Homo sapiens: one gene and its partner. The protein of the gene in region 2 purifies or fractionates together with the protein of the main gene of each other region. This does not show direct contact. Each region holds a gene or a part of one and is shown on either strand. Other genes may lie near its edges.

Region 1 (4,934 bases), on a different chromosome or scaffold from region 2:
TAGGTTTACTTGTAATATTATATATATATATATATATATATATATATATATATATATATATATATATATATATATATATATATATGTTTCAGAGACAAGGTCTTGCTCTGTTGCCCAGGCTGGAGTGCAATGGCATAATCGTGGCTCACTGAAGTCCTGACCTCCTGGGCTTCCGTCCTCCTGCCTCAGCCTTGTGAGCAGCTGGGACTACAGGCTCACAACACACATGGCTAATTTTATTTTTATATTCTTTTGTAGAGATGAGGTCTTGCTATGTTGCCCAGGCTGGTCTTAAACTCCCAGCCTCAAGCTGTCCTCCCGCCTTGGCCTCCCAAAGTGCTGAGTTACAGGCATGACCCATTACAACTGGCCAATTTTTTTTGTTTTAATTTCAAACACAGTAAATATGGATATAAGTAAACAAAATCTCTTTGGGGTCCTCCAAAAAAAGTGTGAAGTTTCTGAGACCAAAAAGTTTGAAAATTGCTACTGTAGGCCAAGATCCCTGGCTCTATTAGTTTGAGGAATCTTGCCAGGATACCTGCTGCCCAGTTCCTCCCTGTCAGCTTCTCTTAGGGCTTTGGTTATGTATAAATATTAGAGCTAGGGTAAGAAGCATAAATCTATGCTGCTCATAAAGTTAAGAAAAATAGGCCCCATTTTATTTTTTCTAGCTAAACATTTTCAACCAATTTATTTAAGCTTAATGTTAAATAATTTATATAAATAGAACAGTAGTATACTATACCTGTGGCATCCTAAGAAAGGAGAAATCAGGTTGTGGCATTCCAACAAGGGAACAAATTCGAGAAAGTTCAGTTACTGGTGTGGATACAGGAGGGATCTGGCTGGGGGCAGGCCAACACATATTGTCCATAGACTGAACATTATGGTACTCATTAGCACTGTGAGGCTTGTTCATATAAGATGCTACCAAAAAAGAGAAAAGAGTCTATCTTTATTAATAAAATACTATCTCAAATTATGCACTTATTGTAGGGTTTTATAGAAGAGCAAGCAGGAAACTGCTAAAAAGTGAAGTGAATTGCTCAAGGCCACCCATTATTAAATAACAGAATCAGGATTTCAGGTGGCTCTAGTTCCAAATCCTGGACTCTAGCAGTACAACCTGCCATCCAAGTGACTGTCAGCTTACCTTCAGTGGTCCTCTGGCCACGCACCTTATAAATTTGGTCGAAAACCTTGAAAAATTCAGTTAGACGCTATAGAGCCACCAACTGCATTAAAAAGATGAGTCTTCCATGAAGCACATATAAACAACTATTTAGTACTTCCTAAAATTATTGTGACTTCAGTAAAGGTTTTTGGATGAGTATAATTGATTAATGATAAATTATTAAGATAAAGATTTTAAAATATAAGTACCTAACTGCCAAAAATTAAAACCTTGAGCAGCTAATGACTACATGGTACTGCTACAGGTAAAATTTGAACAAACAAATGGCTTTCTTGTTTTGCAGAAGTAAGAAGAGAAAAATAAAAGAATGAATAAACAAATGGCTTTCTTGAGCTGAAATATAATTCATCCTTAAGTTTTGAAGTTTTGGCTTCCACCTCAATTCTTGCAATTCCACCTTACATTCTGAGACACATGGATGAATATTTTTGTGGCTCTGAAATAATATTTCTTAAAAGTTTTTTTTGAAATTGTCTTCTAAGTGTTTTTATATGGAAGATGATTTTAAAATTCTGAGTGTTCACATTCTTTATGATTAACAAACTCACTAATAGAACAAAAGCATACCTCATTGAAGAATTAATCCAAACTTCTTACTAATATAGATTAAAAAAGCAGTTAAGTGGCTTGCTCAAAGTCACAGAGCCAGTTAGTTCTATAACAGGGGCTGGATTCTGAGCTAGTGACCCTAAGACTCTAAAGCCTATGAGTTTTTTTTTTTTTTTTTCCTATACTGAAATAAAGTAAAACTTACTTGTTTTTGACAATGGGACCATCTTTATCTAATTTTGTCTTAAAATTAATTTGGTTCTATTTCAGGACCATGTCTGTCACTATAATAAATAATCAGGTTCCTAATATTTTTTGGAATTTTTAATTAATTATCACTGGAATATAAATGGGGTTAGGTTCTGCTTTTATTCCAGGTTTTGTTTTTGTTTTGACAGAGTTTCGCTCTTGTTGCCCAGGCTCGAGTGTGATGGCGTGATCTTGGCTCACTGCAACCTCCACCTCCCGGGTTCAAGCGATTCTCCTGATTCAGCCTCTGAAGTAGCTGGGATTACAGCTACTTGGTGGCGCCTGCCACCACACCCGGCTAATTTTTTGTATTTTTAGTAGAAAGGGGGTTTCACCATGTTGGCCAGGCTGGTCTCAAACTCCTGACCTCAGGTGATCCACCCGCCTTGGCCTCCCAAAGTGCTGGCATTACAGATGTGGGCCAACGTGCCCAGCCAATTCCAGGTTTTGATCTTTAATACGCTTAGATCTGCTTATTCCAAAATGTTTTTGACTTCTCTGAGAAACTTCTGCCCACATCCACTTTTGTATCAGTCATTCTTCCTGGCTGCCTTTAGTAGATCATTATACAGATAAAATGCTAAAGTATAGAGGACATTCAGGGTAGGAACAAATATGGCGGATATTTACTGAAATCCAGTTATGTGCCAGATGTTATGCTATAGGCTTTACAGACTTAAGAGTATGACTCACTTTCCTATATCTAACTCTATTAATGATTTTTAATTGATTTTGTAGATTTTTCTATTTTTACAACAGTTAGGTTATTTTAACATAATATTAATATCAATTATTAGCACCTACAATGTGTTGGACATAGTGCTGTTTTATATTTATACATGTTATATAATTACCACAAGTAATCTGTAATGTATTATTCTTATTTTATAAATAAGAAACAAGATTTCAGAAAAGTTAAATAATGTATTTAAGTTACATGATAATTTTTAAATTACTGAGGACAAAAGCTAGAATGTGCAAACTTTTAAAGGTTTGGATGTCTACAGAATGATTATCTATAACACTACAATTAAGTAATCACAAGAAGACATTTAGTGACTGTAGATCTATTGGTTACATGGTTGTATTATTATTGTTCTTTTTGTTTTTTGAGACAGGGTCTATCTCTGTTGCCCAGGTTAGAGTGCAGTGGCGTGATCTTGGCTCACTGCAACCTCTGCCTCCAAGGCTCAAGCAATCCTACCACGTCAGCCTCCCCAGTAGCTGGGACTACAGGCACACGCCACCACACCTAGCTAACTTTTGTATTTTTTAGAGAGACAGAGTTTCCGCCATGTTGCCCAGGCTGGTCTTGAACTCCTGAGCTTAAGAGATCCGCCTGCCTCAGCTTCCCAAAGTTCTGAGATTACAGGCATGAGCCACACCTGGCCAGTTATATTATTATATAACTGAAACAAATATAAAAATTATAGTTTTAAGAATAAAAGTAGTTTTGGGCCAGGTGTGGTGGCATATACCTGTAATCCCAGCACTTTGGGAGGCTGAAGTGAGAGGATTGCTTGAGGTCAGAAGTTTGAGACCAGCCTGGCCAACACAGCAAGACACCATCTCTAAAATAAATAAATACATTAAAATAAAAGCAGTTTTATCTTTAAAAGTACATGATTAAAAAGAACCAAATGAATTGAATTTTTAAAATGATATTATTGGTAATAGTATTTAGTTTACTTACCTAATTTCTTATTTTGTTTAGGCTGAGAGGGTAATCCATATTCATCTCTTCTGTTAGAGGAAACAGGGATTTCATTAGCAATCTGTTTGATTTCATTCTTATGGTCCACAGTGTTAGAGCCATCAATTTTTAGAATTTCTTTAAGCATCCGTGTTCCCTTCTTTTTGAAAATGATTCACATGGAGATGGTGAGGGTGAAGAGAACAAAGTCAACATTACATCTGTAGAACTTATTGATCTTTCTTGGAAAGAATTCCATTGTTAACAATTAAGACATTAACTACATTCAGATAGAAACTGAAAAAAAAAAACCCAACACCCACATTTCTGATACAGAAACGATACTTATCCTCCTGCTTAACTTTCATCCCAGTTACCTAGTAGCAATGTTTGAAAAGCAGGGGAACTGTGGTCTAAAGAGAAAAAGTATGGCTAAATTGCCCAGGGCAGCCTGGTTTCCTCACAAGATGACAATAATGATGTAACATACCAGCCTCCATGATGGAAGTGTTTGAACACTTGCATGGGATATGTCTGCATGGTCAACAGTCGAGAAATTACCACAGTAAGAAAGTTCCTACAAAATACGAACCATGGCAAATGACTGTGGTGACAAATGCTCTTCACTTGGAGGCTCCCCATGATGAGATGACTGTACTTCATTTTCTTTGGAGATATTCAAAGATGCTAAAAAGTTCTCAATTCCAGAGTTAGGCTAAAAGAATAAATATTTTGGGCATGAAGATGAACGTATAATACAAGAACACACAAAAAGCTGAGTTTTATGTACAAAAATGGTCATTCGATTTTCACTCAATCATCTTCCCAGGTGTTAAAGTTTGGGAAGAGAATTGGAATAAATAGTTTTTTACCTTATCAATAGCATTTGGATAACCAGTCACAACCTTTTGGGTTTCTGAGACTTCTGGACTTTCATTTCTCTTCAATAGCTTAATATTATATTTGGCAGGCCCTTCTAAAGTCTATTAAAAAAGTAAGAATAAACTTTTTGTGCAAATATATTTATAGTTAATATGTAATAGTGTTCTAAATAAATTGTTGCAAAAAAATTTTATGTGCTATTTTCCCTTTTGTATCATAAGAAAAGGGGCCTATAAACTTGGATGGGGAAAATTACACCTTAATCTTCATTAACCTCTCAATGAGATTTAGCATTTCCTGCAATTATGAATATAGGCAACAAAACACTTATATGGTCTGCATGTTTGTATTCCCCCAAAATTC
Region 2 (4,934 bases):
TGCATCAGGAAGGAGCTCAATAAGGACCACATATTGTGATCTTATAATTTGTCTCTGATTTGTGCATTTTTTAAACACCGTGTTGAATTCATAGAGTTGAACATATTGGTAGGTTTCATTCCACTGTAGTCCTGACCTCATGCTGCTCCACCTGGGGCCCCGGGGTGGGCTTTAGGAGGCTCCTGAGCCCCAGGGTCACTGGCAGTCCTGCATCCCGCCCTACAATCAGCCTTTTCTCCAGAAACTCTTAAGCTCCTTTTAGAGGAGATGATGTATTTGGAGACCACAATCTGGGAACTGAAGAAGTTAACTGTTTAAAGGCAGCTTATACGTAAACTGAAACAACTTTCAGAACCTCTTAAAATATCCAGCCTACGCTTCTGATAGGAACTCTGGGTGGGAGGCAGTGAACATAACTCTGGGTATCAAGAATGATCCAAATCATATATTCTTTCAGAATCATTTACTCCATTTTTATAGAATAAGAAGGTTCAGGTGCAATTTTTGAGTATCTCATCATATACAAGCGTATTTGGTAGCACATTAAAAACAATCCATCTGCATGGGCTAGTTTTTGAAACAGTCCTACACAGCTTCGTATTTGAGTGAAGATCACCAAACAATGCATACTCAGTACTTTATCATTAGACCTACTTTGTAACTACCCCAAGTCTAACCTAGTGTATACTGATAACTAGTGAAACTCATATGAAAGCTTGAAAGCTCTTTTGCTATGAAACTAAAAAGATAAAAATACATCAAGAATTTTAAAAAATACACAGAGACTTTTTTAAAAAAGTGACTAACATAACTAACAATGTACTTACTGAATAGACTGACAACATGACAAAGGTTCTGTTGCAAATGTTAAAAAGCTTCATGGCACAGAATGTGCAATAACAATACAAATAATGGTAATACTATAATTTAAAAGGCTAAAATTTTATCGACTGTTAGAAAGTAAACAACTGCTGTACCACAGAAGATGCTAGAAGCGGCAGTTTCTGTGTAAGATTTTTAAGCATTTCGTATATTGGGACACATTTCAAATAATGCATATTTCTTAAATATCTTCCTTACAATTTTAGAAAACAAATACAAATTCTCAAACGCTTAGTCTTAAAACAGTATATATGTCAACTAACACAATGAACCACTTTTAATTATTAGTTTTTAAAAAGATCAAATTCCACAACTTTCAGTTTACTTTTAATTAACTCGGAATACTGTTTCCCTAAGTTTTCAACAAACTAAGGAGTCTAAAAAATAGTAACACGCCAAGCAGCAAGGCTGAAATGAGTATGCGTTTAATTTCTGTAGTTTTGACAGAGGACCAAGAGGACCAAGTGGTCCAGACTTCAAGTCCGTTAGATGTAACCCAGACTATGACTTCAGGTGAAGGAAAGCACAGCTGCTTATAATTCTGTCTGCAGCCACGGCTCTCCAGACCTCCCTTCACAACTAGTCTCACGCACATTTTTAATGCTGACAAATACTTCTCGAGCCCAGGAGTCCTGAAGTGCTTGGGTTTCTACCTATGAGGATGTCGAGACCAAAGGTTCTTTTGTGTTAGGATTTATACTGCTCACTTCATAAAATTTTTAAAAATCATGTTTATTTCATCCTTTTTCTCCAGAAAGTGTCACTAATGTGTCCTCAAGGGTTTCAGATGCAGTTCAGTATAGCTTCTACGATGCAGTCATTTTAGGAGCATTATCAATGTATTAAAACTTTAGCACTGAGTTAGAAAATTCAAACTAAATATCCTATTCTCTTCTACTGAACTAATGTGAAAGGACCTCACTCTTGGAAGAAAAATCATTTAACAAAATTTACTTTTTCATAAGGCTCTTGGAGTGATGTTCAACTCATACATTGGTGGCATTACCTTTCCCATTCACTCAGAATGACCAGGAGGTGGTAAGAGCCCTTCCTGGTCAGGTGAAGGACCGGCAGCTGCACTGCAGACACCAATCTTGGATGACGGGACAACTGATGAAAGCATATGTCAATTTTGGTTCACTTCCAAGCAAAAGAAAAAGGCAAAGAGAGTAGCATGTTTCTGAATTTTCAGAGTGGGTGGAGCCAAGGACAGATTTTGGAATCTGGGACTCTGGTGGGCACCTGTGGATGGAGCACAAGGCGTCTGGGACACCAGTACCGCTCTGACATTGAGACTGAGGGCACAGGCTCACAGCAGCAGGCTGGCCTCTGCTCACTCCCCATCAGGATGCTGAGCCACAGTTCTGATCCTGCCTACTACTTACCATTGTGAATCATGTAGTGCAAAATTTGTTCAATCACTGACACCACATAGCTAGCATCTTGTAAAACAGGCAAGTAAGTATTCTCAGACGAAAATACTTCAAGCATTCTCATTGGAAGTGCAACATTCAAACTGTCATCATTACAGTTTTGCAGCAACCTGTAAAAATGAAAAAAGTATTCACACACTTACAGGATGGCAAAATGTCACCAGTTTCCCCAAGTTACTCTCAGTGACAATGGTTAAGAAACTATTCCAGTACAAGATTATCTCTGAAAATAGGGACATCTTACAGATAGACAGGGAAATCATCCAACTAACATTCAGTCATTCAGACAGTTTTTAAAAGAATTCTCGTTATGTGCCAAACGGTATGCTGGCACTAAGTTCACAGACAAGAAAAATGGACAGTGGAGAAATGAACACGAAAAATTAAAGATTACAAAACACTGTAAGAAGTATTATAATCCATGAATTGTACCAAGAAGCTGCATTTAATTAAACTCAGATACGAATCTCTTTAACAGTGCATCTCATCTCCTTAAAGATGCTTTTGAGACTTTCCACGCCTGCAATATCCCCCAAATAGAACAATGATATATTTCTGGTCCTAAGTCAACTCTCATTTTGACTGAGGCTTCCCTTCTTACTATGAGAAGAACTGCAGGTTAACTATCCGTTTAGAGAGGGCAGCACAAGCAGTCGGGCAGGCCGCACCAATCAAGACACAGAGCACATCTGCCACTCCCGAAAGTTTCTTCTTGGCTGTCTCTAGTCCACTCCTCCCTCTTTCCCCCCACCCCAATCCTTTTTTCTATCAAAAACTTTGTCTAACACCGAACTTATTTTTAGATTTCTCCTGTTGCTTTCACAAGGTATTTTACAGCTGTTTTTCCTTTTTCTTAAAAAAAAAAAAAAACAGAATCCATCTGACCACACATCACCTTTAATGAGGGACCCAGGAGGCTGTTTCAATGCCTCACTGAAACTAACTTCTCTATGTGACAAAAGCCTTCTGCCCTGCCAGGAGGGGAATAACGTGCAGGGTTCTGGGTGGGGTGTGTCTACACGGCTTATCCGCTTACCGCAGGCTGCCTTCTGTCTCAACAGCCGCAAAGCCCAGGAGAGACAGGGGGTGAGGACCCAGCGGGCAGGCTGGGCAGGACACCCAGCCAGACCTTGTTTTGTCTTTGCCCTTTTCACAACTTTCCCCTCAGCACCACACTGGTGTCTCTCGAGGGGTGTACGAGTGCAGGAGGAGCGGGGCTACACATAACAAGCCGCTGGGACGCAAAGGGCAGCGGCGGGCGGTGGGAGAGCCTCTTGTCAACCTGGAAAAGTCAGCAGCATGTGTGCTGATAATCCCATGTGAGAGGTAAACCTGATAATGCAACAGAGAGAAGTGCTGGAACGGTGCCTCGTGTGAGAGACAACATAGGATGTAGCTCCAGGTTTATCGGGACAGCCTTGGACGGGAAAAGGATATCCATATTGTCAAGAGACAACCCACCTTAAAAAATGAAGTAAAAGATTTGAACAGACTCTTGAAAAAGAGCCATCTGAGTGACCAGTATGCTCCTGAGAAACACCCGTCATCATTAGTAATCCAGGAAATACAAATTCCAATCACAATAAAATACAGCTACACACCCATCAGAATGGCTGGGTTTTGACAAATGTCAATACCAAGGGTTCAGGATATGGAGGAACTGCGCCTCTCCTATGCTGCTGTCCTAAGTTTGGTAGTTTCTTCTAAAGTGAAATATATAACTACTATGTGACCCAGTGATTCCATGACTTCAGAAATGTTCAACGGCATTAAAAAATATGTATGTGATTAGTCATAAAAGGAGCTGCAGGTGGTTCTGGAAGGCCACATTTACAGAAAAAGAAAAATTCAATGTTCTGGCACGTGGCAGATAAGACTGTCGACTTACTAACATACACTTGAAGTACAATTTCTAACATTTACATTTTGTTAAAATTCCATTTCTCATCAAAAAGAATCAGTGCTCCTTAGAGAAAACAGCCCCAGGCCTGGGGCAGAGAGAGCACTTAAGGCTTTGTGACCTCACAGAAAACAAAGATCTCTCAAAATACAAATGAGGCCAAGCCAAGAAAAACGGGCTGCTTACAGGGTGCTCTCTACCTATAAGCAGACCATTAAAAGTCATCTGTCACACACTGTATTTTAAAAAATACATGAGACCTTACTGAGATTAAAGAGGAAAGATGAGGAGGAGTGTTTTCTTGTTGTTAAAGAAACATGGGTTTGGCTGGGCACGGTGGCTCACGCCTGTAATCCCAGCACTTTGGGAGGCCAAGGCAGGCGGATGACCTGAGGTCAGGAGTTTGAGACCAGCCTGGCCAACATGGCAAAACCCCATCTCTACTAAAAATACAAAAATTAGCTGGGCGTGGTGGCACGTGCCTGTGGTCCCAGCTACTTGAGAGGCTGAAGCAGGAGAACTGCTTGAACCCAGGAGGCAGTGGTTGCAGTGAGCCGAGATCACGCCACTGCATTCCAGCCTGGGTGACAGAGCAAGACTCTTATCTCAAAAATAAAAATAAATAAATAATAAAAAAAGAAACATGGTCTTGCTCTGCTGCCCAAACTGGAGTTCAGTAGCACAATCACAGCTCACTGCAGCCTCGAACTCCTGGGCTT

What was found. Proteins that work in one complex are often made in the same cells at the same time.
Region 1: the proteins of UBE3C (region 2) and XRN1 purify together in Homo sapiens (affinity purification with mass spectrometry; one large-scale study listed by BioGRID and IntAct). This does not show direct contact.

What each region holds. Positions count from the first base shown.
Region 1 is NC_000003.12:142,328,686-142,333,619, forward strand, and holds part of XRN1 (5'-3' exoribonuclease 1), read right to left. Parts: intron 4,405-4,934; coding exon 4,282-4,404; intron 3,850-4,281; coding exon 3,690-3,849; intron 953-3,689; coding exon of another isoform or gene 931-952; coding exon 749-930; intron 1-748. UniProt on the Homo sapiens protein: Major 5'-3' exoribonuclease involved in mRNA decay. Required for the 5'-3'-processing of the G4 tetraplex-containing DNA and RNA substrates. The kinetic of hydrolysis is faster for G4 RNA tetraplex than for G4 DNA tetraplex and monomeric RNA tetraplex.
Region 2 is NC_000007.14:157,176,181-157,181,114, reverse strand, and holds part of UBE3C (ubiquitin-protein ligase E3C), read right to left. Parts: intron 2,426-4,934; coding exon 2,268-2,425; intron 1-2,267. UniProt on the Homo sapiens protein: E3 ubiquitin-protein ligase that specifically catalyzes 'Lys-29'- and 'Lys-48'-linked polyubiquitin chains.